Homo sapiens: one gene and its partners. The protein of the gene in region 5 interacts with the protein of the main gene of each other region in a pairwise test. Each region holds a gene or a part of one and is shown on either strand. Other genes may lie near its edges.

Region 1 (3,500 bases), on a different chromosome or scaffold from region 5:
TAAAGTAACATTTATTATAGACTAATAGAATTTTTTTAAATCTGATAAAATTCCTCCTTTAGAACAAAATTTAAAGATTTGGGTTACAGTTTTAAATCTACTAAAGCAAAAGGTCTAAAGTGCACTACCATTTCAAAAATGGTGTAATTTAAATGGTTTACTTAAAAAAATCCTGTTACTATGCATGAAATCAAAATAAAAATGAAAATGTTGATAATTCCAATTAAACTCTATTCTACACAGTTGATAATTTATCTAGACTCAGGTTTCGCTGCTTGAATTTTAAAGGTATTTTGGACCACATACACTCCAAGATTAAAGAGTTTAATTACATTTGCTCAGTTAGTTAGAAAAGATGTACTTACCTTGAACATTTCACTTAAATACATTTTTAAAACTAACGTTATTATGAGAGTCAAAATATTCAGGCTGGGTGCAGTGGCTCATGCCCATAAATCCTAGCACTTTGGGAGGCCGAGGAGGGAGGATTGCCTGAATTTAGTAGTTCGAGACCAGCCTGTGCAACATGGCAAAACCCTGTCTCTACTAAAAATACAAAAAATTAGCCAGGCATGGTGGCACGTGCCTGTAGTCCCAGCTATTCAGGAGGCTGAGGCATGAGAATCACTTGAACCCAGGAGGTGGAGGTTGCAGTGAACCAAGATCATGCCACTGAACTCCAGCCTGGGCGACAGAGCAAGAGTCTGTCTCAAAAAAAAAAAAAAAAAAGCGAGAGTCAGTCTAAATATTCAGTGATAAATCATTTTATTTACACTATTTAATAAACACAAACAGTTCCCTGTATTTAAAAGGGAGAAATGCTGTAAGCCGGTTTTTAATGCAGTGGCCAATAAACACTTAAAACAGATAAAATTAAGGTAGTACAAAATCATTTGCTACTAAGAATGCTTATTTTCTTTTTTTTTGAGATGGAATCTTGCTCTGTTGCCCAGGCTGGAGTGCAGTGGTGTGATCTCGGCTCACTGCAACCTCCACCTCCTGGGTTCAAGCGATTCTCCTGCCTCAGCCTCCCAGGTAGCTGGGACTACAAGTGCCCGCCACCATACCCGGCTAATTTTTGTAATTTTAGTAGAGACGGGGTTTCACCATATTGGCCAGGCTGGTCTTGAACTCCTGACTTTGTGATTCGCCCGCCTCGGCCTCCCAAAGTGCTGGGATTACAGGTGTAAGCCACTGTGCCTGACTAAGAATGCCTATTTTCTATAGTGCTATTTATAGTAGTAAAGAAATAGAAACCACCTAAATATCCAACAGAAAATGGGTTAAACAATGTACAACCATACAACAAACTCCTATGTTAACTATTAAAAATGATATTCAGGAAATATGTGTATTAACATAGAAAGTTATTCACAATGCACTGCTTAAAAAAAAGTTATAATAACAGACTACAGCGTACTTGGATCTTTTTTAAAAGAACAGGTATTATCAATCGTTATGTCTGGGTATGTTATGGATTATAGTAGTTTTCATCTTTTCACTTATATGTAATTTTAGCTATTTCTGTATCAAGCATGGACACATTTGTCCCCAGATGAACAAATACTTGGGTCTACATATCCAGGTAGATAAATGGGTAATGAAAACTTACCTTTACATTTTCATGAATAGACTGAAGTTGTGCCGCTAAAGCTACAAATGTTTGATAAATTTTCTGCATAGCCATTGACAAATCTATAAAAGAAAATTACATTATCACCCAAATATATACATATATATAGCACAATCCATTTTATTTTTCTATTTGAGTCCAATTTTTGGCACAGTTAACGTGTAGGAGAAAAAAACTCTATCAACGTTCTCATGGCCAGAGAACACACAGAGTAGCAGACTGAATGTCTACAAAAGAAATCTGGGGGGAAGGCCCTAAGATTTCTGTCCTTGTTACCACAGTAACAATTCATATAATAAAGCATATTATATTTATAGGGAATAAAGGAGTAGTAAATGACTTTTAAGGAAATTTTCTTAAAGGGGCTACCAGTAGTTATCCAAAATACCTATTATATAACCACATCTATCTCCTACAAACAAAAGTTCAAAAAAAATTACCACAGTAAGCATGTTACCTTGAGGGGTTATATGTGAATTATTTGCTTGAGTGGCAAGATGGTTTTCTAGTTCTTCAATCTGCTGCCTGTACTGCTGAAGCTGTACCTCAAATTGCTGAACCAAGATTCTGAAGTAGCTTTAAAAAACATTTAAAAAGTCAGATCAAATATTTTTTTAATTTGGAGTGACAAATCCAAATTAAGGAATATTCTGCAATCATTTAATAGTCTTCAAAAGTATCAAGGTTATCCAAGGAAAGGAAGGACTGAATAACTGTGACTGGAAGATATTAAGGAGAAATTACAAATGCACTGTGAATCCCAAATAGGATGCTGAAACAGAAGTACACTAGTGGAAAAACTGGTTGAATTTCAGTAAGTTTAGTAGTTTAGTTAATAATATTGTAACAATTTTAGTTTCCTGTTCTTGGTAATTATACTATAGTTATAAGTTAACATTAGGGGAAGCAAGGGAAGCGATATAAATAAATTCTCTGTACTACTATTTTGGAAGTTTTCTGTAAGGTTAAAATAAATTTAAAATAAAGTAGAAACGTCTACCAACCAGATTTCAGAATTAAGAATTTATAGTCATTTTATCAATGAAATTTATAATCTGAGAACACCATAGTATACTACAGAAAGCACATGTAATTATTGCTACTTTTCTAATAAATTTACCCACAGAGAGTGCTAGACAGATAAAAAAAAAAAAAGAAGGTATCTTGAATAGTATACAGAGGAATCTGAATGTCTTTCAGTAAACAATGGGCAACCATGAATGCATTTTGCAAAATTAGCTCTGATGGCAGTATTAAGTACAAGACAGAGGGATAAAATAGTAGAGGAAGTCCAGTGAGGAAGCACATCTCATGCCAACCTGAGTAAGACGAATATCATGGGCATTATGAATTTCCTGATTTTGAGAACTGTTAAGTATGAGAATATCCTTATTTTTAAGAAATATCCACTGAAGTACTTTAGCATAGTGAACATTATTTCTGCAAATAACCCAAACTGTTTGGGGGAGAAATGTATATACACACATAGAATGTGAGGAACAAAAATATGGTAAAAATGTTAATATGTAGGAAATTGGAATGAAAGGCATACAGGAATTTTTAGTTCTCATCTTGAAACTTTTCTGTAGACCAAAATTATAATAAAAAACTAAAAGAATAAAATAAGTAAGGGGCCAGGCGTGGTGGCTCACATCTGTAATCCCAGCACTTTAGGAGTCTGAGGCGGGAGAATCACTTTAGCCTAGGACCAGCCTAGGCAACACTGTGAAATGGCATCTCTACAAGTTAATTAATTAATTGTGAGGGACCAGGAATCAAACAGACCTCCACCACTCAACTCACTTTTGCATACCTCAGTCTCTTTATCGCTAAAACTGGAATAACAACAGCTACAGAGATCTTGTGA
Region 2 (3,500 bases), on a different chromosome or scaffold from region 5:
CTCCTATGCTTTAGGAAGCCGGGACCTCTAACAAGATTCTATAGTTATTCAAACCTACTCCCTAGAAATTTATCACCCAAAGAGCAGCCCCAAAGATTAGCTGTTAATGCCATGAAGATGCCAAAGATAATCCCATGACAGTCTAATTACCTTATCTCGTATGTCAGCCTCATGGGTCTTCTAGGCCACAGTCGGCCTGGATTCCTTTATTCACCTCTCCTTCAGAGCTGAAAACTGACTGTAGCACATCTGTAATAGTCTTTCTTTTGAATCACGTAGTTCTAACAGTTTCAAACAAGGCTACTCATTTGCTGCTCTCCAGGGAATTTTACAATAGCGGAAAGTTCAGATCTCCCAAATTTCTGACCTGCTATTGACTTACACATTTCCATAACCTTTATTACTGGAGTACCCTCCTTCTGAGAGTGGCTTCTAATAGTCTTGTTAATTAGAACCAAAATACATCAGAGGCCTTCTAGATATCCAACCAGAGTGCAGTGAAAGTGTTCAGTCACTGTATAAGCACAGAAAAAAAGAATGACAAGGTTCACTTTTGATGATACGGGGTGTTATTAATAAGACATGTTTCCTTTTTGGTACTAGGGTGCTCCTGGTGCTGTAGGTGCCCCTGGTCCTGCTGGAGCCACAGGTGACCGGGTAAGCATGCATTTTCACTAAGCCAACAGCAATATCTAAAATTTCCCGCCTTCCCTAGTCCCAAAGAGCCCCAGCAATTCATTTTTATGGCTTGGTATAAAGCCTACTTATTTAAAAACCTAGCTATTGTGATAGAGCAGCAGGAAACAAATGCTGTGTGTTTAAAATTACTTTTCCCTTCCTATAGATTTGCCAGCTATCTGATCTATACTCTAATCCCTAGCATTTGTTTTAAAGTCTCTCCATGTTGCGCATTAACAATATCCTAATGCACTGAGGCTTCTCAAAGCCTTCAATTATTACCAAAAAATCAATAAAATACATAGTGTGCCCATTTCACATTGAACTCTCCACTTAAAATAGATCTTATTTATTGTATTGCAAAGATTGCCACAAATAGATCAGCCCCGTGTCCATCTAAAAATTAAAATGTCCTCCTCCTGGTATTGTAGGCACTGATTTATAGTGTTTTCTCAAGTGTATAACCCATACTACTTAACCCCCAAAATGAATATAGCATTAAGTAAAAATCCACTTCATTTTACTCTGTGAGATGTGCGTCAGTTATCTCTTCCAAGGCAACTACAGACTCTGTCTGTCCACCACTGTTCTCTCTCCCTCCCAGTTCTTTGAGCATCTATGTCAGGCACATTAACAGATTCATCTTTGGTCCCATTATAGGGCGAAGCTGGGGCTGCTGGTCCTGCTGGTCCTGCTGGTCCTCGGGGAAGCCCTGTAAGTAAGAACCTGGGTCATTTTGTATACTCACACCTCACAATGTTTAGACATTGATGAACCTAGGATTGATAACACATTTTTAAATCCCTTCTCCCACCTAGGGTGAACGTGGTGAGGTCGGTCCTGCTGGCCCCAATGGATTTGCTGGTCCTGCTGTGAGTATCACATAATGAAGATTAATCTGAAAACATCCTAAGTTGGGGAGTAGAGTGGGTCGGAATACCAGAGCTGTAACTGTTTATTTCCAACAGGGTGCTGCTGGTCAACCTGGTGCTAAAGGAGAAAGAGGAGCCAAAGGGCCTAAGGGTGAAAACGGTGTTGTTGGTCCCACAGGCCCCGTTGGAGCTGCTGGCCCAGCTGTAAGTTGAATTCACTGGTGGTCCACACAGCAGCTACCCATTAGATCTTCCAATTAAATATATATCCGTCAAGTGCCTGCTATGCAACAGGGAATATACCAGATAGAAGATGGAAAATAACGGAAGGATTAACATTTGCACACTGCTTTACAAAGTATAAAAGTTTCATGAATATTGTTTTATTTTAATTCTCTGATAACCTCATAAGGGTGGTAATATTGAAGAACATTCTGACACAGATAGTCATTTTTTATTTCTATATTTTCTTCTAAGAGATGCGGGAATGATCCACTTGAAGAAAAGAGTAGCATTTACAAGGGTTTGTTTGTGATTTGACTCCATCTTTTTGTTTGCATTTAGGGTCCAAATGGTCCCCCCGGTCCTGCTGGAAGTCGTGGTGATGGAGGCCCCCCTGTGAGTATTTACAATGGACTCTCGCCGCTTTTCTTTTTTCAGAATCTATTAAGGACACTTGAAAGTTTTGAAATTTTTGGTAAATTTGGACTACCATGAGGAAACTTTTGAGATTCAAGTTCATTCTATTCAGAGCAATTCCGATATTGATGTTAACTTGAACTCAGCTGGAACTCAGTGTATGTTGCTATCAGCTCACTTGAGGTAATAACCAAGGTGGGCCCTAGGCAGTTTAATTGTAAAGTCGGAAAAAATATTCCTTTTGGCGTTTATTAATATGCCCCTTCTTCTGCCTGACCATGTCCTTCTCCTTTGCAGGCAATGCTATCACAACAATTCTCTAGAGACCCAGAGCTCCCCAAAAATGAACTTTACTGACTTCTTCTCTCACTGGACAGTGCTGAATTATCTAGGTCATTTGTTATTCTTTTGTCCATGAACACCATTACCTATTAAGTGTCCATTTCCTTACCACTCAGCCAGGTGGTAAAGATAGTTATTAATGTATACACATTAATGTGTAATAATGACATAGTGTCTTATCTTCATACCTTTACAACCATAAGATAATATGTCAGCATTTCAGAAAGGACCATCCAAACCTTAACGCAAAATATGGGCATTGCAACTGGTAATATGCTGGTAAGGAAGATGTGTGGAGAAGGAGGGCCTTCAGGGTCCTGGCTAAATAATGCCCTATATGAAGCTGCCTACCTCCTACTCCTTGGTCTATTCCTGGTCACATGTACTGATTTTCCAAAACAAAGAAATTCCCATCTTACCCAAATTCTTGGAGTTGATGTTGACTGTGGAATTCTAATGTGCTTGGCTCTTAGGGTATGACTGGTTTCCCTGGTGCTGCTGGACGGACTGGTCCCCCAGGACCCTCTGTAAGTAAATCACTGTAAACGTGTCTTCATTTACTCTAGCCAAAAGGCCTGGCTTCTGATAGGAAACTGGTAAGAAACTCTTCATGAAAACACATCACTAATATTCGCTATTACTCTCCTGGTCTGAAGTCAGCTTTTCTGAACCATTAAGGTATTTCATCACAAGTTATATTTTATAATATCAGTTTAAGAGGCTTTTATTCATGTGAACACCAGTCCCCTTTCAGGGGCATGGTCTTTTTGAAAAAAAAAAAACAAAAAAACGAACAGTTTTAGCCACATATCAGATATTTCTATATCTAATTATCCTTTATGGCTAACATTCTGCCTCCATTGTTAAGGTATAATTGTTCCTGAATTTAAAGGTGGTTTGGCCTCTAATTTAATTCTGATTCAGACTCTCCTGTCAGGACTCAAGAAAATTTAATTAATTACCAAGGAT
Region 3 (3,500 bases), on a different chromosome or scaffold from region 5:
ACACGTTTTAACCAGCATAGAGATCTGGGCCCTGGTTCTGCCACAGACATGCTGCGTGGCTCCAGGGAAGTTCCTAGTGGTCTCTGAGCCTGGAGCAGGACCCCTGACGCTGCCCAGGCCAGGCCTACGGGGATAGAAGGGGGGACCCTCACCAGGCTCGATGGGCTGGAAGGAGGATCCCGCGAGCTCTTCTGAGGTGAGCTGTCCGAGTCAGTGCCGAGGTTCAGCTTCTCCACCGATATGTCACTGCAGCAGACGAGAGGAGGGTGTGTCTGGGACCCAGGACCCTCGCAGGCTTCAAGGGGCAGCCGGGACCATGGGGCCCTCCTTCCTTACCCCGTGGTCCGGGCCTCGGATCCTGGAGAAGCCCCAGGGCTAAAGGTGCCTGTGCCCGTGGCATTGGGGATGAGCCTCCGGAGCAGCCGCACCCACGTGGCGACATCGATGTTCATCTGCCTAGCACGCTGGAACGCCTTCCCTGGGGGGACGGGGCAGGCGTCACCCTCCATGACACTCCCAGGACCCCTGGCCTCTCCCCCAGGAAGCCTGGAGCACCCTCTCACCTTGCTGCTTGGAGAAAATTTTCTTCTGCCGTCGGAGCCGAGGAATCCTCTCAATGACAGGGTTGCGGAAGGTGACCTGGGGGAAGGGACCAAAATGTGAGGACCCTCTGCCCACCTGCAGGCAGACAGCTTGGTAAGGAAGCCCCTGGGAGCACAGGTGTGCGCGCCCAAGTGGGGTTCTGGTCACGTGGCATCAGATTCAACCCGAGTACCAGGTGACAATGAAGAGGTCATCGGTGCAACCCATGGCTCCCCTCCTGAAGGGACGTCTTGGAAAAGCAAGAAGCAAACAACCGGGTCCCTTTCTAGAGGTGGGGAGAGCATCTGACCCAACAAGACTGACAGACAGCGACTGCAAACGGACGCCACGCCATCCCACACCCCATTCCCCACATGTGCTCCCAGACCCCAGACCTGCAGTAGCAGCAACACCTGGGAACTTTCTAGAAACGCAGGTTTGACCTACTGAGCCAGAAACATGGAGTGGAGGAAGCGCGCGCATGCTCTCTCTCTCTCTCTATATATATATATATATACACACACACATATATATATATACACACATATATATATGCACATATGAGTAGTCCGATCTCGGCTCACTGCAGCCTCCACCTCCCGGGCTCAAGAGATCCTCCCACCTCAGCCTCCTGAGTAGCTGGGACTACAGGCACGCACCCCCATGCCTGGCAAATTGTTGTATTTTTGTAGAGACGGAGTTTCACCATGTTGGCCAGGCTGGTCCTGAACTCCTGGGCTCAAGCGATCTGCCCACTTTGGCCTCCCAAAGTGCTGGGATTACAGGCGCGAGCCACCGTGCCCGGCCCTAAAGCACTCAGTATTTCAACAAGCCCCCAGGCAATGCTGGTGCCCACCCATCTATGGAAGCCACCTGTCAAGTTGAATTCTCCCAACTCCAATACAACTTCTAGAAGGTGCTGAAGTCACAGAACTGCAGTGTCTGGTATGGTTGTCACATGTGGCGATTTAAATTAGTGAAAATGTCAGCGAAATTAAAACTTTGGTTCCCTGGTCACACTGGTCACACTTCAGATAGAGAACATTTCCATCTACAACAGAACTCAGCTACTGTGGGTGCATCGACAACAGAGCTGCAGAAAGTTCCTTTTTTCTTTGAGACTCTGTTGCCCAGGCTGGAGTGCAGTGGCGCAATCTGGGCTCACCACAACCTCCACCTCCCAGGCTCTAGAGATTCTCCTGCCTCAGTCTCCCGAGCAGCTGGGATTACAGGCACCCACCACCAAGCCCGGCTAATTTCTTTTTTTTTTTTTTTGAGACACAGTCTCACTCTGTTGCCCAGGCTGGAGTACAGTGGTGCGATCTTGGCTCACTACAACCTCCGCCTCCCAGGTTCAAGTGATTCTCCTGCCTCAGCCTCCCAAGTAACTGGGATTACAGGCGTGCGCCACCACACCTGGCTGATTTTTGTATTTTTAGTAGAGACTAGGTTTTTCCACGTTGGCCAGGCTGGTCTTGAACTCCTGACCTCAGGTGATCTGCCTGCCTACCCTCCCAAAGTGCTGGGATGACAGGCGTGAGCCACCGCACCCAGCCGAATTTTTGTATTTTTAGTAAAGACAGGGTTTCACCATGTTGGCCAGGCTGGTCTCAAACTCCTGACCTCAAATGATCCATCCGCCTCAGCCTCCCGAAGTATTGGGATTACAGGCGTGAGCCACAGCGCCCGGCCAGAGCTGCAGAAAAGTTCTATGGAAGAATGCTTCTGTATAGGCATAAAAACAAAATAGAATGCCACAGAGAGACCTTGAAGGCAAGGAGAAACGCTTTAGAATGTGTCCCCCAGGCCACCCACCATCACTTTCCATTTGGTTTGGGCTGTGTTCTGAATGGGAGAACAATTTTAAACCTCTGCCATCTGGAGTCAGCTCTTCTCCACGCCCCTTTCTTTCTTTCTTTTTTTTTTTTTTGAGACAGAGTTTCGCTGTTGTTGCCCAGGCTGGAGTGCAATGATGCGATCTCGGCTCACTGCAACCTTCATCTCCCAGGTTCAACTGATTCTCCTGCCTCAGCCTCCCGCGTAGCTGGGATTACAGGCGCCTGCTACCACACCCGGCTAATTTTTCTATTTTCAGTAGAGACGGGGTTTCACCATGTTGACCAGGCTAGTCTCGAACTCCTGACTTAGTGATCTGCCCGCCTCAGCCTCCCAAAGTGCTGGGATTACAGGTGTGAGCCACTGTGCCTGGCCCCGCCCCTTTCTTTCACTGGTGCTTGATGGTCAGACCAGGGGAGAACCTCTGCTTAGGGATATGGATATAGAGAGATGGATAAATAGACACAGAAAGAGACAGATATAGACGCAGGTAGATAGAGAGGGGCATGGACGGAAGGGTAGTTACAGATAGAGAAAGAGAGAGGGACTGATAGAGAAAGGGATTCATAGAAAGAGAAGGATGCATGGATAGATGGATGGATAGATAGATACAGCTATCGAGAGAAAAAGAGAGAGAGACACAGATAGATACAGAGAGGGATAGATAGAGACAGAGACAGGAATGGGTGGATATAAATAGAGATAGAGGAATATACAGAGATGGATGGATGGAGGGATGAGCATAGATAAGATAAATGGATGGATGGATAAGATGATAGATAGATAATATAGATGGATAGATAATATAGACAGATGGGTAGACGGAAAGATAGATTAGTTGATAGATAATATAGATGGATGGATAGATAGATATAGCTATATAGAGAAAAACAGAGGCACAGATAGATATAGAGAGGGATAGATAGAGATAGAGAGAGGAATGGGTAGATATATATACAGAGAAATATACAGGGATGGATAGATGGATGGATGATGCATACATAAGATTGATGGATAAGATGACTGACAGATAATAGAGACGGATGCATGGAAAAATAGATTGGTTGATAGATAATATATAG
Region 4 (3,298 bases), on a different chromosome or scaffold from region 5:
CAGCCTAGGCAACATAGCAAGACCCTATATCTACCAAAAGTAAAAAAAAAATAGCCAGGCGTGTTGGCATGCACCCATAGTCCCACCTACTCAGGAGGCCGCAGCAGGAGGATCACTTGAGTCCAGGACTTTGAAGCTGCAGTGAGCTATGATTGCACTGCTGCATTCCAGCCTGGACAGTAGAGTGAGGTCCTGGCTCAAAAACAAAAAAGTCTCCTCTCCATCTCTAGTAAAAGTAGAAAGCTTTAGTCTGTGCTTCTCTGGAAAGCAAACTCAATCGTTTTCCTAATGATGAGCATTGAACTGGCCCTGGTAAAGTTTCCACTCATTCTTTTTCAGTCTAAAGCCGCATTTGAAAGGGAAAGTGATGTCCCTCTGAAAACTGAGGAATTTGAAGTGACCAAAACAGCAGGTACGGAAAGATGGGGATGGGGTAGAGGTGACGCCACCCCCATCCAAGGGTGGGCAATCGGGGCAGTTTGGAGAGGGGGGTCAGCCATAGGGGTCCTGGAGACTGTAGACCAGGCATCCACAAACTGATTCTATAAAGGCCACCTCGTCAATATCTTCAGCTTTGTGGCACTGTGGGTTCTGTCTAGAGCTGTGCCATTGTGGCACAAAGCTGCTGCAGACAGTATGTCCATGCGTGGGTGTGGCTGTGTGCCACTAGAACTTTATCTTAGCTGGGCGCGGTGGCTCATGCCTGTTACCGCAGCTGCTCAGGAGGCTAAGGTGGGAGGATCATTGGAGCCCAGGAGGTCAAGACCAGCCTGGGCAACATAGCGAGACCCTGTCTCTACAAAATTTTTTTAAAAATCAGGCTGGGTGCGGTGGCTCACGCCTGTAATCCCAGCACTTTGGGAGGACGAGGCGGGCGGAACACTTGAGGTCAGGAGTTCCAGACCAGCTGGCCAACATAATGAAACCCCATCTCTACTAAAAATGCAAAAAATTAGCCAGGCGTGGTGGTGCGCACCTGTAATCCCAGCTATTCAGGAGAATTGCTGGAACCTGGGAGGTGGAGGTTGCAGTGAGCTGAGATCATGCCACTGCACTCTAGCCTGGAAGACAGCAAGATTCTGTCTCAAAAAGAAAAAAAATTAGCCGGGCATGGTGGTGTGTACCTGTAGTCTCAGCTACTTAGGAGGCTGAGGTGGGAGGATTATTTGAGCCCAGGAGGTCGAGGCTGCATTGAGCTATGATCGCACCACTGCACTCCAGCCTGGGCATCAGAGTAAGACTCTGTCTCAAAAACAATAAACAGGGCTGGGCATGGTGGCTCACACCTGTAATCCCAGCACTTTGGGAGGCCAGGAGTTCCAGACCAGCCTAGCCAACATGGTGAAACCCCTTCTCTACTAAAAATACCAAAATTAGCCAAGGATGGTGGCACATGCTTGTAATCCCAGCTACTCAGGAGGCAGAGACAGGAGAATCTCTTGAACTTAGGAGCAGGAGGTTGCAGTGAGTCGAGACTGCACCACTGCACTCCAGCCTAGGCAACAGAGGAAGACTCTCATCTCAAAAAAAATAATAAATTTTAAAAAATAAATAAATGAAATAAAACAAAGTAGAAACCATCAGGGCTTTGAGGTTGGGACTGTGGCATGCCGAGGGGAGGCTGCAGGGGTCACTGGGAAACATCAGGGTCCTTCTTCGGTTGCCTGAGCAGCACCGGTGTCCTCAAGCCACATTCAGCTGCATGGCGCCAATGCTAAGCAGAAAGAGGAATCGGAGGCGCCGAGCTGGGGCAAGGGTGGGAGCCAAGGGAGTGGACACAGCAGGTAGGGCCGGGAGACTTGGGTGAAGCAGTGGAAGCCAGAGTTCTGACCCTGCTGGAGAAGTGTCATGAGGGCCTCAGACAGGTTCACCCACTGAGCAGGAGGTCTTGCAGCCTGACCCACCCTGCATCCTGTTCAGGCCGGGATCATCTCCTTCCTGGGCTTCTTCTGGCCCCTTTCTGCATCTCTTCTTGACAACATGGCACAAATGACCAGGGTTCTTCCCACCTCAGGTCTTTCTGTGGCTTCCTGCTGCCTGCCATCTATGTTAGCCCCACCGACCTTACCCTCCACATCACTGTTTTCCTGTCTGTCACCCGTAAGACTTTCAGTGCCTGGGGCCTTTTCACATGGGAGTCTGCTTTGGAGACTGCTCCCCTTGCCTGCTTAGCCCCCACCATGGGCCCCACCCCAAATCCTCCGGACTTCTGAGAATTTTCAATGTTGAGGGCCCAACCATGTGTTTCTTTCTTGCAGTGGCTCACAGGCCCGGGGCATTCAAAGCTGAGCTGTCCAAGCTGGTGATTGTGGCCAAGGCATCGCGCACTGAGCTGTGACCAGCAGCCCTGTTGCGGGTGGCACCTTCTCATCTCCGGTGAAGCTGAAGGGGCCTGTGTCCCTGAAAGGGCCAGCACATCACTGGTTTTCTAGGAGGGACTCTTAAGTTTTCTACCTGGGCTGACGTTGCCTTGTCCGGAGGGGCTTGCAGGGTGGCTGAAGCCCTGGGGCAGAGAACAGAGGGTCCAGGGCCCTCCTGGCTCCCAACAGCTTCTCAGTTCCCACTTCCTGCTGAGCTCTTCTGGACTCAGGATCGCAGATCCGGGGCACAAAGAGGGTGGGGAACATGGGGGCTATGCTGGGGAAAGCAGCCATGCTCCCCCCGACCTCCAGCCGAGCATCCTTCATGAGCCTGCAGAACTGCTTTCCTATGTTTACCCAGGGGACCTCCTTTCAGATGAACTGGGAAGAGATGAAATGTTTTTTCATATTTAAATAAATAAGAACATTAAAAAGCAACCCCACAGCCTGGGCCCTCCCGGCTGGCCGTTGCGGGTCAGGAGCTCAGACGCGGCTGACACTGCCCCACCGTGGGCGGGTGGGCGGTGTCTCTGGGTGGGACTTCTCTGCAGGCATCAAAGCGCTAGATCCCAAGGTGGCTGTATGTGAACTTGCCCCCTTCCCCCCTTGGCACTCGCTGTCCCTGGGTCCCCCACATGTTGTGAATTCACACCCGGGTTTCTGTGGCTGCCACAGGCCCCAGCGCGGGAGGATGTTCCAAGGCCGACCTGCTCTCTGCAGCCTGGGGCATTGGTTTCCCTTAGTTTGTTTTTCTTTTGAGACAGGGTCTTCTCCTGTCACCCAGGCTGAAGTGTAGTGGTGTAACACGGCTCACTGCAACCTCCACCTCCTGGGCTCAAGCGATCTTGCCACCTCAGCCTTCCAAGTAGCTGGGACTACAGGCACACGCCACCATGCCCGGCTAATTTTTGCATCTTCTTTTGATAGAGACAGCGTTT
Region 5 (3,500 bases):
TATACTGGATCTTGAGGAGTCTGAAATACCTGGGAAGGTTAAGAAGTCAGGCAATGGCTAGTGCTTAGTGGTATGCCAACTGGCTCATAAAGACTTGGCATCCACCATCTTTGTCTTACTGTGTACTGTGTAAGAGTTAACTGGCTATGTCAGTGTCAGACACAGAACCAGCACAAAATCAACAGCCTGACAGATGCACTAACAGCTGCCTTCCCTTTGACCATGGTCTTTCCAACTACCACAGCTGCTTCCTCAGCATGCCACCAGGGCCTTTCCCAACATCCCCCATAACTGGCATTTTAACCACCTGCAAGCTCAACGTGTTCACTGTAATGTCATTGTCATTAAAACTGCACTCAATCCTGGGTTAATAAATGTGTTCAAAATAAGGACAGTCATCCTTATAATCTGTATTACCCTGAGCGCTGTGCTGAGTTCTAGAGATAATGACAAACTAATGGGTAATTCAGAAAAGTAATGAATGTGGTGAAGGATCATGACAAGAATACCATGTGATGATTGGCTGTAGGAACTATGGAATAGTTAGGTCCTACAAAAGATGACTTGACAGCTTGCTCAAATACTTAAAAGGGCAATGAGTAGAAACTGGAGTACAACTAGGATCAGCGGTAGAAATTACAGGAACAGATTTTGTTTCAGAGTGAAACCTTTAGAATAACTGTTGAGAGAGAGGAACAGGCTTCCTAAGGACACAGCAAGTTACACATGGAAGGAATTAACCTTGCTTGGGGTGGGGGAGGGATGGCATCTGGGCATGGTTTTATGCCCTTGTAGCCCAAGACTGTGGTCACCTGACGTAGGCTTTGATGCTCATGCGGCCGTTCTGGAGACTTGTGTCCACAGTGAGGTGGATGGGGTTGGGGGCCTCTCGGCTGTAGTACTCGTGGATCAGCACAGAGTGCTCTGTGATGTCATGGCCCGTAGCGTACCTGTGAAATGGAACACAGTGGTGGACTCCTGTCTATATGTGGCGTCAATATCAAACACAACAGTGGCATGGGTGTCTTCAGGGTACCGGACACTTCTACGGTAGGACACCTAGTGACACCAACTGCCAAGAGCAATACACACACCGAAAACTATGTCAAATAAAATCAAAGGCTGACTTAGTGCTGATGAAAAATTCCAAGTCACTTACAAGGTAATTCGAAATATCCTGGCCCCACAGGATCAGAACCACCAGCAAAACCCACTGAATTCACAGTTCCTACAGGTAACACACTTTCCTTTTGTTTTTTAGAGACAGGGTCGCACTCTGTCACTCAGGCTGGAATGCAGTGGCAAGGCATGATCATAGCTCACTGCAACTTCAAATTCCTGGCCTCAAGTGATCCTCTAGCCTCAGCCTCCTGAATAGCTAGGACTATAGGTGTGTGTCATCATGCCTGGCTAAGTTTTTAAAAAATGTTTTTGTAGAGACAGGGTCTCACTATTTTGTTCAGGCTGATCTTGAACTACTGGGCTCAAGTGATCCTCCTGCCTCAGCCTCCCAGCTGGGATTACAGGCATTGAGCCACTGCTCACAGTCAGTAATACACTTGCAATACTCTTGCCTCCAAAAGGAAGAGTATAAGATCCAGTCCAGTAGCAAAAGACACCGGCAATCACGAAGAGACCTTCCATTAACCCCAGCCCCCACCTCCCCAACTTACCAGCCCAGGATGAGCTCATTTGGAGAAACTTTTTTATGCAGTTCATACATATTCTTAGCAAATTCCATGTCAACAGCCACCTAAGAGGGAAGGCAGGAAAGCAAGCTAAGAAGCCAGAAGTCCAAAGAAAAATTGGTTAAAAAGGACAAGAGGCCACCCCCAATAAACAGAAGAGGCCCAGGAAGTACGTACAAATGGGAAGAAGCTCCTTGGCTACAGGAGCTCTAGTTATGAGTGTGGGAGGGACCGTGAGGGGAGCCGAGCAAATGAACAGCTAAAAACTGCAGAGGGACAGCTTGGATTCCCACTCACTTCATCTTCTGACTCATTGTGCGGCACTGAAAAGCAATTGGTGACCTCCACTGAGTGTTTGTCGACAGTTCCTGTGAAAGAGAGAATCGTCCATGTGTTATATAATCCTAGGGCTCCCAACAACCTCTGACTACTTTTGAAATGCTTTTGATGATCTCTTCAATGTCAATGAACACCTAACTGAACTCATTAGCTCCAAGTTTAGTCCGGTGCATCGATGGGACCAGAATTCTCCAGGGAACTGAAACTGTGGTGTGATCGCCAACTTCTCCCTCTAATCATCACCAAATAGGGTTTATTCTTCCTTTACAAGGTCTCCTTTTGCCTGTTACTCTCCACTACTAGCCTATTCCAGACCTTCACTCTACGGCCTTTTTTTTCAGCCTCTACACTTTCTCCCTGTAATTTAATCTGCAGAGCTACCTGGAATATTTTAATGGTTACATAGACTGCTAATATAGTGGCCAAGTTTCAGACACTGAGACGTCAGGAGCTTCATCTGTACCTCCCTTTAGCCATCTGGTCCCATGGTCAGTCTTAACCTTATCATCATCCAGAAATCTATCTGCGAACCTTAGAAGTCAGTCTTTTACCACAAACTTTTGTTCTAGTTCTGATACCTTTACTTCCATATTTCTTTTTTTCTTTTTTTTTTTTCTGAGACGAAATCTTGCTGTCGCCCAGGCTAGAGTGCAGTGGTGCAATCTCGGCTCACTGCAACCTCTGCCTCCAGGGTTCAAGTGATTCTCCTGCCTCAGCTTCCCGAGTAGCTGAGACTACAGGTGCGCATCACCACGCCCAGCTAATTTTTGTATTTTTACTAGAGACGGGGTTTCACCATGTTGGCCAGGCTGGTCTTGAACTACTGACCTCAAGTGATCTGCCTGCCTCAGCCTCCCAAAGTGCTGGGATTACAAGTGTGAGCCATGGTGCCCAGGCTGTATTTCTTTTATTTATTTATTTATTTATTTATTTATTTATTTATTCCCACTACATTTGTTTCTTGACCTAAGACCACTACGTTGAGTTTTCCATTCTCTTCTAATCTATTGGAACCTCCTACCCCAGGATTTAAAAGTTTCCCTCTCCACCAGAAACCACAGTGTTGTCTATATCTACCAGTGTTTATCTAATTCCAACTCACTATGGTTTCTGCTCCCTTCACTGAAACTATGTCCCTAAACCAAATGCACATATATCCTTTATCTTATTTGACCTCTCATCAGCGTTGAACAGACTTGACCACTTACTTCCCATCTTAAAACTTTCCTTCTAGTTTTCTTCCTACCTTTCTAATCTTGTTGGCTACTTCTTCCTGACTTTTTAGGTTTTTAGGGTTTTGTCTCTGTTCTCTTGTCTTTTTATTCAATGTTCCTTTTCTAGGCCAGGCCCTGATCTAGAAATGTTTTTTGTGAATAAAGTTTACACGCCAATTTTTTTATGGCTGCTTTCTTGCTACAAAGGCAGAATTAAGTAGTTGTGATAGAGACTGCACACAAAGCCTAAAATATTTAC
Region 6 (3,500 bases), on a different chromosome or scaffold from region 5:
AAGCAATCTTGTAATCTCCAGGGTGAAAGATTCTTTAGAAGTTGGCATTTTTAAATTTTTTTTCTTTTGAGACGGAGTTTTGCTCTTGTTGCCCAGGCTGGAGTGCAATGGCACCATCTCAACTCATTGCAACCTCTACCTCCCGGGTTGAAGTGATTCTCTTGCCTCAGCCTCCTGAGTAGCTGGGATTACAGGCATGTGCCAGCACGCCCGGCAAATTTCTGTATTTTGAATAGAGATGGGGTTTCACCATGTTGGCCAGGCTGGTCATGAACTCCTGACCTCACATGATCTGCCCACCTTGGCCTCCCAAAGTGCTGGAATTACAGGCTTGTAATACAGGAAGTGAGCTATTTTTATTGGCTCAAAACTGCATTGCAAATAAAGCAGCTTTGCTGTCCCCAGGATAGACCTACCTAAAGATCTGTCCAGTATTATTTTATTGGCTACCAGAGGAACATAGTAAATAACTCCCAAGTGTCTTAAGCTTTACATAAAGAGGGACAGCTCTCGGCTGGGTGTGGTAGCTCACACCTGTAATCCCAGCACTTTGGGAGGCCGAGGCAGGTGGATCACATGAGGTCAGGAGTTTGAGACCAGCCTGGCCAACGTGGTGAAACCCATTTCTACTAAAAATACAAAAAGTAGCTGGGCGTGGTGATGTGCATCTGTAATCCAAGCTACTCAGGAGGCTGAGGCAGGAGAATCACTTGAACCCGGGAGGTAGAGGTTGCAGTGAACCGATATCACACCATCACACTCCAGCCTGGGTGACAAGAGCAAAACTCCATTCCCCACCCCCACCCCCCAACAAAGAGGGACAGCTCTGTATTCACTGGCAGCATTTCTCTAATTGTGTGCCAAGTTGTCTCAGTGGCTGAAAATTCACTGTTTCCCAAACCTCTGGTCCCAGCAGAACTCCCAGGATCCTAAACCAGAGAGCCAATATTTTTTTTTTTTTGAGACGGAGTCTCCCTCTGTCACCCAGGCTGGAGTGCAGTGGCACGATCTTGGCTCACTGCAAGCCCCGCCTCCCAGGTTCATGCTATTCTCCTGCCTCAGCCTCTGGAGTAGCTGGGACTACAGACGCCTGCCACCACGCCCAACTAATTTTTGTATTTTTAGTAGAGACGGGGTTTCACCGTGTTATCCAGGATGGTCTGGATCTCCTGACCTCACGATCCGCCCGCCTCAGCCTCCCAAAGTGCTGGGATTACAGGAATGAGCCACTGCGCCCGGCCAGAGAGCCAAATGTTTAACTTAGCAGACATATTCTGGCCTGAAACCTGAGCCATGAAAAGCCCTTACAACAATGCATTCAATATCCTTTTCAATGCTTTATATCATACCCGGAGCCATTATTGTGTTGAAACCAGGACAGCTCTGGCTTCTCCTCATATACTAAAGACTGTATGCCAAGCTAGAAACTAGCTAATCTAGAAAATATGGATTTGGGGATCAAGGGGAAAAAGAACCCTTGGAGTGACAGCATGTGGATTCTTCTTCCCAGAGATTTGATCACCTCTCAGCTATTTGTATCAGGCTGCAAGTTTCAAGTATTAATGGAGCTTGTTTTTGTTTTTCAGGCCCAACTGGAAGGCATTATTGCACCAAAGAAGTGATAATTTCCACATGATTAATTTCCAACAAGACACTTGGGAGTTATTTACTGTGTTCCTCTGGCAGCCAATAAAATCATCATAAGCCCTTTGTAATAAAAAGCTAGTTTCCTGAGTGAACAAGCCATAACCTCCCCTAAACACCACCTAGGTATTTGTTAGAAGTCACACTATTACTCCAATGTCATCAGACACCTAAGGTCTGCCAGCCAGGCTCCTGGCTGGGCAATGGAAGATGGTGTGGCCCTGTTAGTCTCCGTGTGTGGCTTACTAGCCAGCCTTGGGAACTGCCAACTCAAATTCTAAGAAAGCCACTGCTTTCTCATCATCACTCTATACCAATACTTATTTCTGGCCAAATGAATCTGCTTCTCTGCCCCTCAAACTTTTAGTTCACAATTCATCTTCTACCTTAACTTGGGCTTCTTGGGCCTCTGGCCTTCCTTACTTAATGTCTTCTTTTCCCTACTCTAATGCATTTCTAACTCACTTTGGAGCTTTGGTTTTCTAATGTATTATCCCCACTTGCCAGTCAACTGGACCCCTTCCTCCTCGGTTTCAGACTGCCTACATTAGGAAACAATGGCAGTCAAACCCATGGCTTTGGAGAAAGTAAATGTTTGCCAGAAAGGAATACTAGTCACAGTGGCCTTTGTGAGTTGTCTGCAACTCAGCTCTTCCCCCAGCACAGATCTGTTCCCCTTATCCTGCAGAAAATCAAGCCCTGACTCTGCACTCCCCGAAGTAGTGATGTTAATTAACAACTGAAGAGGTAACTAAATCTCACATGCAGGTCTAATGACTAATAATTGGAGTACGGCTGCTAGACAACTGCATTTTAGTATTTCTCTTCCATTCTCCTGGTTTTGTAGACCCAGAAGATTGAATGAGTGACATAAATCTTTAGTTCGGGGCAAGCCAGGGTGGGCTAGGGTGGTAAGCTGGAGGACTTCATCCTTCAGTTAGGCTGCACAAGTAACATTACCTAAAAGGCACTAACATGCTCAGGTTCCCCAGAAAGAGGCGTAAGAAGGGCCTCTCCTTAGCAGAGCTTCCACCTGCCATCCGTCTTGGGTTCAGTGAGCTTCAAGGCTCACAATGGAAGCACTGTCATTTCCCCAGAAAAGCTGTGTTCCCTATGCTGAACACACCATACACATTCTCATCTGGAATCTAAGGAGCAGCTTTTACCCTGATCCAGTATCCTGAGGAATTTTAAGCCTCCACTCAAATGACCTGCCTGTGTTGTCATTTCCATGGGAAAGAACTCTTTCCACGAGATCTGCTAGTTCCAGGCCTCTAAGACAGGAACGTATGTGCCATAAGTGGGTCTACTTCACAGACTCAATGAGGCAGAAATTATTGTAGTTTTCTCCTATTTCTTCTGCACCCAACTTTCTCCTTGTATTTCAAAGGCCAGGCCATGTACACTAACGTCCTTGAAATTTGCAGTTCTGTATGCTTCTATTCCAAATCATTCATTACCAATAAAAACGAAATACCACCCTTTCCATTTTATAGACCTCATCCCCTATTTCTGTCAGACAGTTATATGACAGGGTGACTGTGGAACCTCTTAGTTCATCCAAAGTCTACCTGAAGTGCTAGACTTTCAGACTCTTATCACTGAAATCCTTAAGGTTGAGGAGGCTTTATTTCCCTAGCACTGGTGAAGGGCTTCAACTGTCAAACCTCAGAACAAATGCATTAGGGCCTTAGAAATGTCAATGGGGCAGGAAGAAAACACAATTTCTAACTGCCTGTTTTTGTATAATTTAATAAAAACCTTTTAAACATTACTGCTTTTGTCTGAATTTTTTGCGTTTGTGTTTCTGTCCCTCTGAGTCATTGGTCTTCTTTTTGTTCCTGTTCCTATTTTTC
Region 7 (3,689 bases), on a different chromosome or scaffold from region 5:
GCCGATATCACTGGAAGATATTCAAATCGTCTCTATGCTTACGAACCTGCAGATACAGCTCTGTGTAAGTGTGACCTTCAATTCGGATGTTGCCCAAGAGTTGAACACCTCTATTGCTGTAGTGATGGGACTAGAGGCTGCATGGTGAGGTGAGAGAGAGCTAGGCTTAGGGACGCCTCGGACTCAGTTTGACCCTAACTAGCCTTGCATCTTCAGGCAAATCACACTCTTTCCATCTCAGGTTTGTTTGTTTTTAATCTCAATTGAAGATGAATTATTTAGATTAGGTATCTTTTTCTCTAGGAGGATTCTATGACCACATTACCTGATTTTCAGGTTTTCTGTTAGGTACACGAGCACACACTCCTTCTATCACAGAACTGAGTGTAATAATTGTAATAATCTGCATGTCTTAATTTTTTAAATAACAAAAGTGAAAGAATGTGCAGTCCAGCTTAAAATTAAATTCAGGTTCAGTTTAAAGATCAGTTTCAAAGATGATCCAAATGATTGCCAAGAAAATTACCTTCCCTATGGTTGCCATCAATGGAAGAGAGACAGAGAGAGAGAGAGACACTGACTTAAGGCAGATGAGGTACCTCAATGCAACGCTGTAGCTAGCTGTGACATCTGATTAGTCCTCTGGGAAGAAAAGTGGGTTTTATCCTAGGAACCAACTCTGATCAATTAGTAGTGGCTGCCTAGAACTGCACTGTCCAATATGTTAACCATTTGCCACATGTTGCTACTTAAGTTAAAGTTAGAAATTCATTCCTTCAGTCACACTAGCCATATTCCAAGTGCTCAATGCCCGGACACTGAACATTTCCATCATCACAGAAATTTCTATTGGCCAGTGCTGACTTAGAACGTCATGTTGGGAAGAGAAGTGAGGCCGTGTCTAGGAAGCAGGAGAGATCATCATGGTCCATTAGCAATGTTTCCAGTGTGTGCTGGACCAGGGGAAGCACATTCCAAGTACTGTCAGCCATTACTGAGATAATACCATACATTTTAATAAGACTAAGCTCTTAAAAGGCACGTGTCCTACACAAGTAATATCACAATCCCTTGTAGAACAGGCACTTAATAATTAAGATTTGTAGGAAGAGTGAATAAGCGGCTGTTCAATGCCTATCGAGTGGACATCTTATTTTTAGTAGATCACATACCTCATTTTGATGAATTGCTGTTGAAGAAACAGTGACCCAGAGTTTGGGCTCTGGAACAGTAGCTCCATTACTTGTTAGCTGTGTGACCTTGAGCAAGCTACTCAGCCTCTCTCTGCCTGTTTCATTATGTATATATAAAGTTCTAATCGTGTTTGTATGAGGATTAAAGAATTCATCTGCATAAAGCACTTGGTTTGCTATTATTTATATTTCCCCTACTTCTAAAACAATTTACACACACCTACTAATAGACATTTCTTTTAAACATGATTTAAATTTACTTCTAAATGAGCCAAAATTATCTTCTGCTGCTAGAGCTTATAAAAGGATTCTTTTGGAAGTGAGGGTTGGAGATGAAGGATCTGGGAAGGAATGACTACACTAGAAAACTAGATTGTCACAAAAGCCATTTCATATAATTTTTTTAAATTACAATAAGATTACCAACTATTCACCTCATGATAAAAAGCATCCTATCAGGCTGGGCACAGTGGCTCACGCCTGTAATCCCAGCACTTTGGGAGGCCGAGGTGTGTGGATCACTTGAGCTCAGGAGTTCGAGACCAGCCTGGCCAGCATACCAAAACCCCATCTCTCCCAAAAATACAAAAATTAGCTGGGCATGGTGGAGCACACCTCTAATCCCAGCTACTCAGGAGGCTAAGGCTGAAGAATCACTTGAACCCAGGAGGCAGAGGTTGCACTGAGTGGAGATTGCACCACTGCATGCCAGCCTGAGTGGGAGTGAGACCTTGTCTCAAAAAAAAAAGCATCCCATTAAATAATGAATTGAGCATCCAAGTTTGGGGTTTATTATATCGATATAACGCACGATGGTGTCTTGACTCTCCTGCTTTTATCCCCCATTAGTGCTTGACAACATGAAGAAAGCTCTCAAGTTGCTGAAGACTGAATTGTAAAGAAAAAAAATCTCCAAGCCCTTCTGTCTGTCAGGCCTTGAGACTTGAAACCAGAAGAAGTGTGAGAAGACTGGCTAGTGTGGAAGCATAGTGAACACACTGATTAGGTTATGGTTTAATGTTACAACAACTATTTTTTAAGAAAAACAAGTTTTAGAAATTTGGTTTCAAGTGTACATGTGTGAAAACAATATTGTATACTACCATAGTGAGCCATGATTTTCTAAAAAAAAAAATAAATGTTTTGGGGGTGTTCTGTTTTCTCCAACTTGGTCTTTCACAGTGGTTCGTTTACCAAATAGGATTAAACACACACAAAATGCTCAAGGAAGGGACAAGACAAAACCAAAACTAGTTCAAATGATGAAGACCAAAGACCAAGTTATCATCTCACCACACCACAGGTTCTCACTAGATGACTGTAAGTAGACACGAGCTTAATCAACAGAAGTATCAAGCCATGTGCTTTAGCATAAAAGAATATTTAGAAAAACATCCCAAGAAAATCACATCACTACCTAGAGTCAACTCTGGCCAGGAACTCTAAGGTACACACTTTCATTTAGTAATTAAATTTTAGTCAGATTTTGCCCAACCTAATGCTCTCAGGGAAAGCCTCTGGCAAGTAGCTTTCTCCTTCAGAGGTCTAATTTAGTAGAAAGGTCATCCAAAGAACATCTGCACTCCTGAACACACCCTGAAGAAATCCTGGGAATTGACCTTGTAATCGATTTGTCTGTCAAGGTCCTAAAGTACTGGAGTGAAATAAATTCAGCCAACATGTGACTAATTGGAAGAAGAGCAAAGGGTGGTGACGTGTTGATGAGGCAGATGGAGATCAGAGGTTACTAGGGTTTAGGAAACGTGAAAGGCTGTGGCATCAGGGTAGGGGAGCATTCTGCCTAACAGAAATTAGAATTGTGTGTTAATGTCTTCACTCTATACTTAATCTCACATTCATTAATATATGGAATTCCTCTACTGCCCAGCCCCTCCTGATTTCTTTGGCCCCTGGACTATGGTGCTGTATATAATGCTTTGCAGTATCTGTTGCTTGTCTTGATTAACTTTTTTGGATAAAACCTTTTTTGAACAGATCTTTTGGCATTATTAATTTTTCCAGGGATATATTTTCAATCTTTTCTATCTCTCCTAGTGACTACTATCATTAGTAGGTGTTGAGCATATACTGCTGATTTAATGACATACAAATCTTCAGCAAAAATATCACAGGTTAATCAGCTCCCTTCTCACAAGTAGATAACTTACATGTGCTGAAAAAGGTAAAACATTCCATTTAAAAAGATCTCTGAGGGATAACAAGAGGAAAAAGAGGTTTCCCTTCCATAAACAAATATTTTAAATGACAAGTTCTAAGTGATTCAAGTTTCTCCTATAGTATAGCAAAATATTTTTTCATTGGGCGGACGTGAAATAAGGTTAACTTCTTAAAATGTATTGAATGGCAAAATATCTTAACACATACAAATACTTTTTAAATATAAATAAATATTTAGGAAATCAAATGTTACAGCTGTAAGGAAAATAAGTCCCCCTTTTAAAAGCATTGAAGAAACACAAAGCATGAGTCATTAAT

What was found.
Region 1: the proteins of EIF3F (region 5) and NUP58 interact in binary tests that used the Homo sapiens proteins (3 or more experiments, as listed by UniProt).
Region 2: the proteins of EIF3F (region 5) and COL1A2 interact in binary tests that used the Homo sapiens proteins (3 or more experiments, as listed by UniProt).
Region 3: the proteins of EIF3F (region 5) and PKN1 interact in binary tests that used the Homo sapiens proteins (3 or more experiments, as listed by UniProt).
Region 4: the proteins of EIF3F (region 5) and MYDGF interact in binary tests that used the Homo sapiens proteins (3 or more experiments, as listed by UniProt).
Region 6: the proteins of EIF3F (region 5) and DNALI1 interact in binary tests that used the Homo sapiens proteins (3 or more experiments, as listed by UniProt).
Region 7: the proteins of EIF3F (region 5) and AGR2 interact in binary tests that used the Homo sapiens proteins (3 or more experiments, as listed by UniProt).

What each region holds. Positions count from the first base shown.
Region 1 is NC_000013.11:25,325,625-25,329,124, reverse strand, and holds part of NUP58 (nucleoporin p58/p45), read right to left. Parts: intron 2,210-3,500; coding exon 2,091-2,209; intron 1,696-2,090; coding exon 1,613-1,695; intron 1-1,612. UniProt on the Homo sapiens protein: Component of the nuclear pore complex, a complex required for the trafficking across the nuclear membrane.
Region 2 is NC_000007.14:94,418,895-94,422,394, forward strand, and holds part of COL1A2 (collagen alpha-2(I) chain precursor), read left to right. Parts: intron 1-603; coding exon 604-657; intron 658-1,338; coding exon 1,339-1,392; intron 1,393-1,496; coding exon 1,497-1,550; intron 1,551-1,646; coding exon 1,647-1,754; intron 1,755-2,114; coding exon 2,115-2,168; intron 2,169-3,004; coding exon 3,005-3,058; intron 3,059-3,500. UniProt on the Homo sapiens protein: Type I collagen is a member of group I collagen (fibrillar forming collagen).
Region 3 is NC_000019.10:14,460,806-14,464,305, reverse strand, and holds part of PKN1 (serine/threonine-protein kinase N1), read right to left. Parts: intron 640-3,500; coding exon 564-639; intron 479-563; coding exon 337-478; intron 247-336; coding exon 153-246; intron 1-152. UniProt on the Homo sapiens protein: PKC-related serine/threonine-protein kinase involved in various processes such as regulation of the intermediate filaments of the actin cytoskeleton, cell migration, tumor cell invasion and transcription regulation.
Region 4 is NC_000019.10:4,657,045-4,660,342, reverse strand, and holds the end of MYDGF (myeloid-derived growth factor precursor), read left to right. Parts: intron 1-339; coding exon 340-412; intron 413-2,258; coding exon 2,259-2,338; 3' UTR 2,339-2,798; downstream 2,799-3,298. UniProt on the Homo sapiens protein: Bone marrow-derived monocyte and paracrine-acting protein that promotes cardiac myocyte survival and adaptive angiogenesis for cardiac protection and/or repair after myocardial infarction (MI).
Region 5 is NC_000011.10:7,990,337-7,993,836, reverse strand, and holds part of EIF3F (eukaryotic translation initiation factor 3 subunit F), read right to left. Parts: intron 2,057-3,500; coding exon 1,986-2,056; intron 1,754-1,985; coding exon 1,674-1,753; intron 951-1,673; coding exon 813-950; intron 1-812. UniProt on the Homo sapiens protein: Component of the eukaryotic translation initiation factor 3 (eIF-3) complex, which is required for several steps in the initiation of protein synthesis.
Region 6 is NC_000001.11:37,563,440-37,566,939, forward strand, and holds the end of DNALI1 (axonemal dynein light intermediate polypeptide 1), read left to right. Parts: intron 1-1,586; coding exon 1,587-1,622; 3' UTR 1,623-3,415; downstream 3,416-3,500. Other genes in the region: GNL2 (nucleolar GTP-binding protein 2), read right to left, coding at 3,416-3,500. UniProt on the Homo sapiens protein: Involved in sperm flagellum assembly.
Region 7 is NC_000007.14:16,791,311-16,794,999, reverse strand, and holds the end of AGR2 (anterior gradient protein 2 homolog precursor), read left to right. Parts: coding exon 1-64; intron 65-2,042; coding exon 2,043-2,092; 3' UTR 2,093-3,189; downstream 3,190-3,689. UniProt on the Homo sapiens protein: Required for MUC2 post-transcriptional synthesis and secretion. May play a role in the production of mucus by intestinal cells. Proto-oncogene that may play a role in cell migration, cell differentiation and cell growth. Promotes cell adhesion.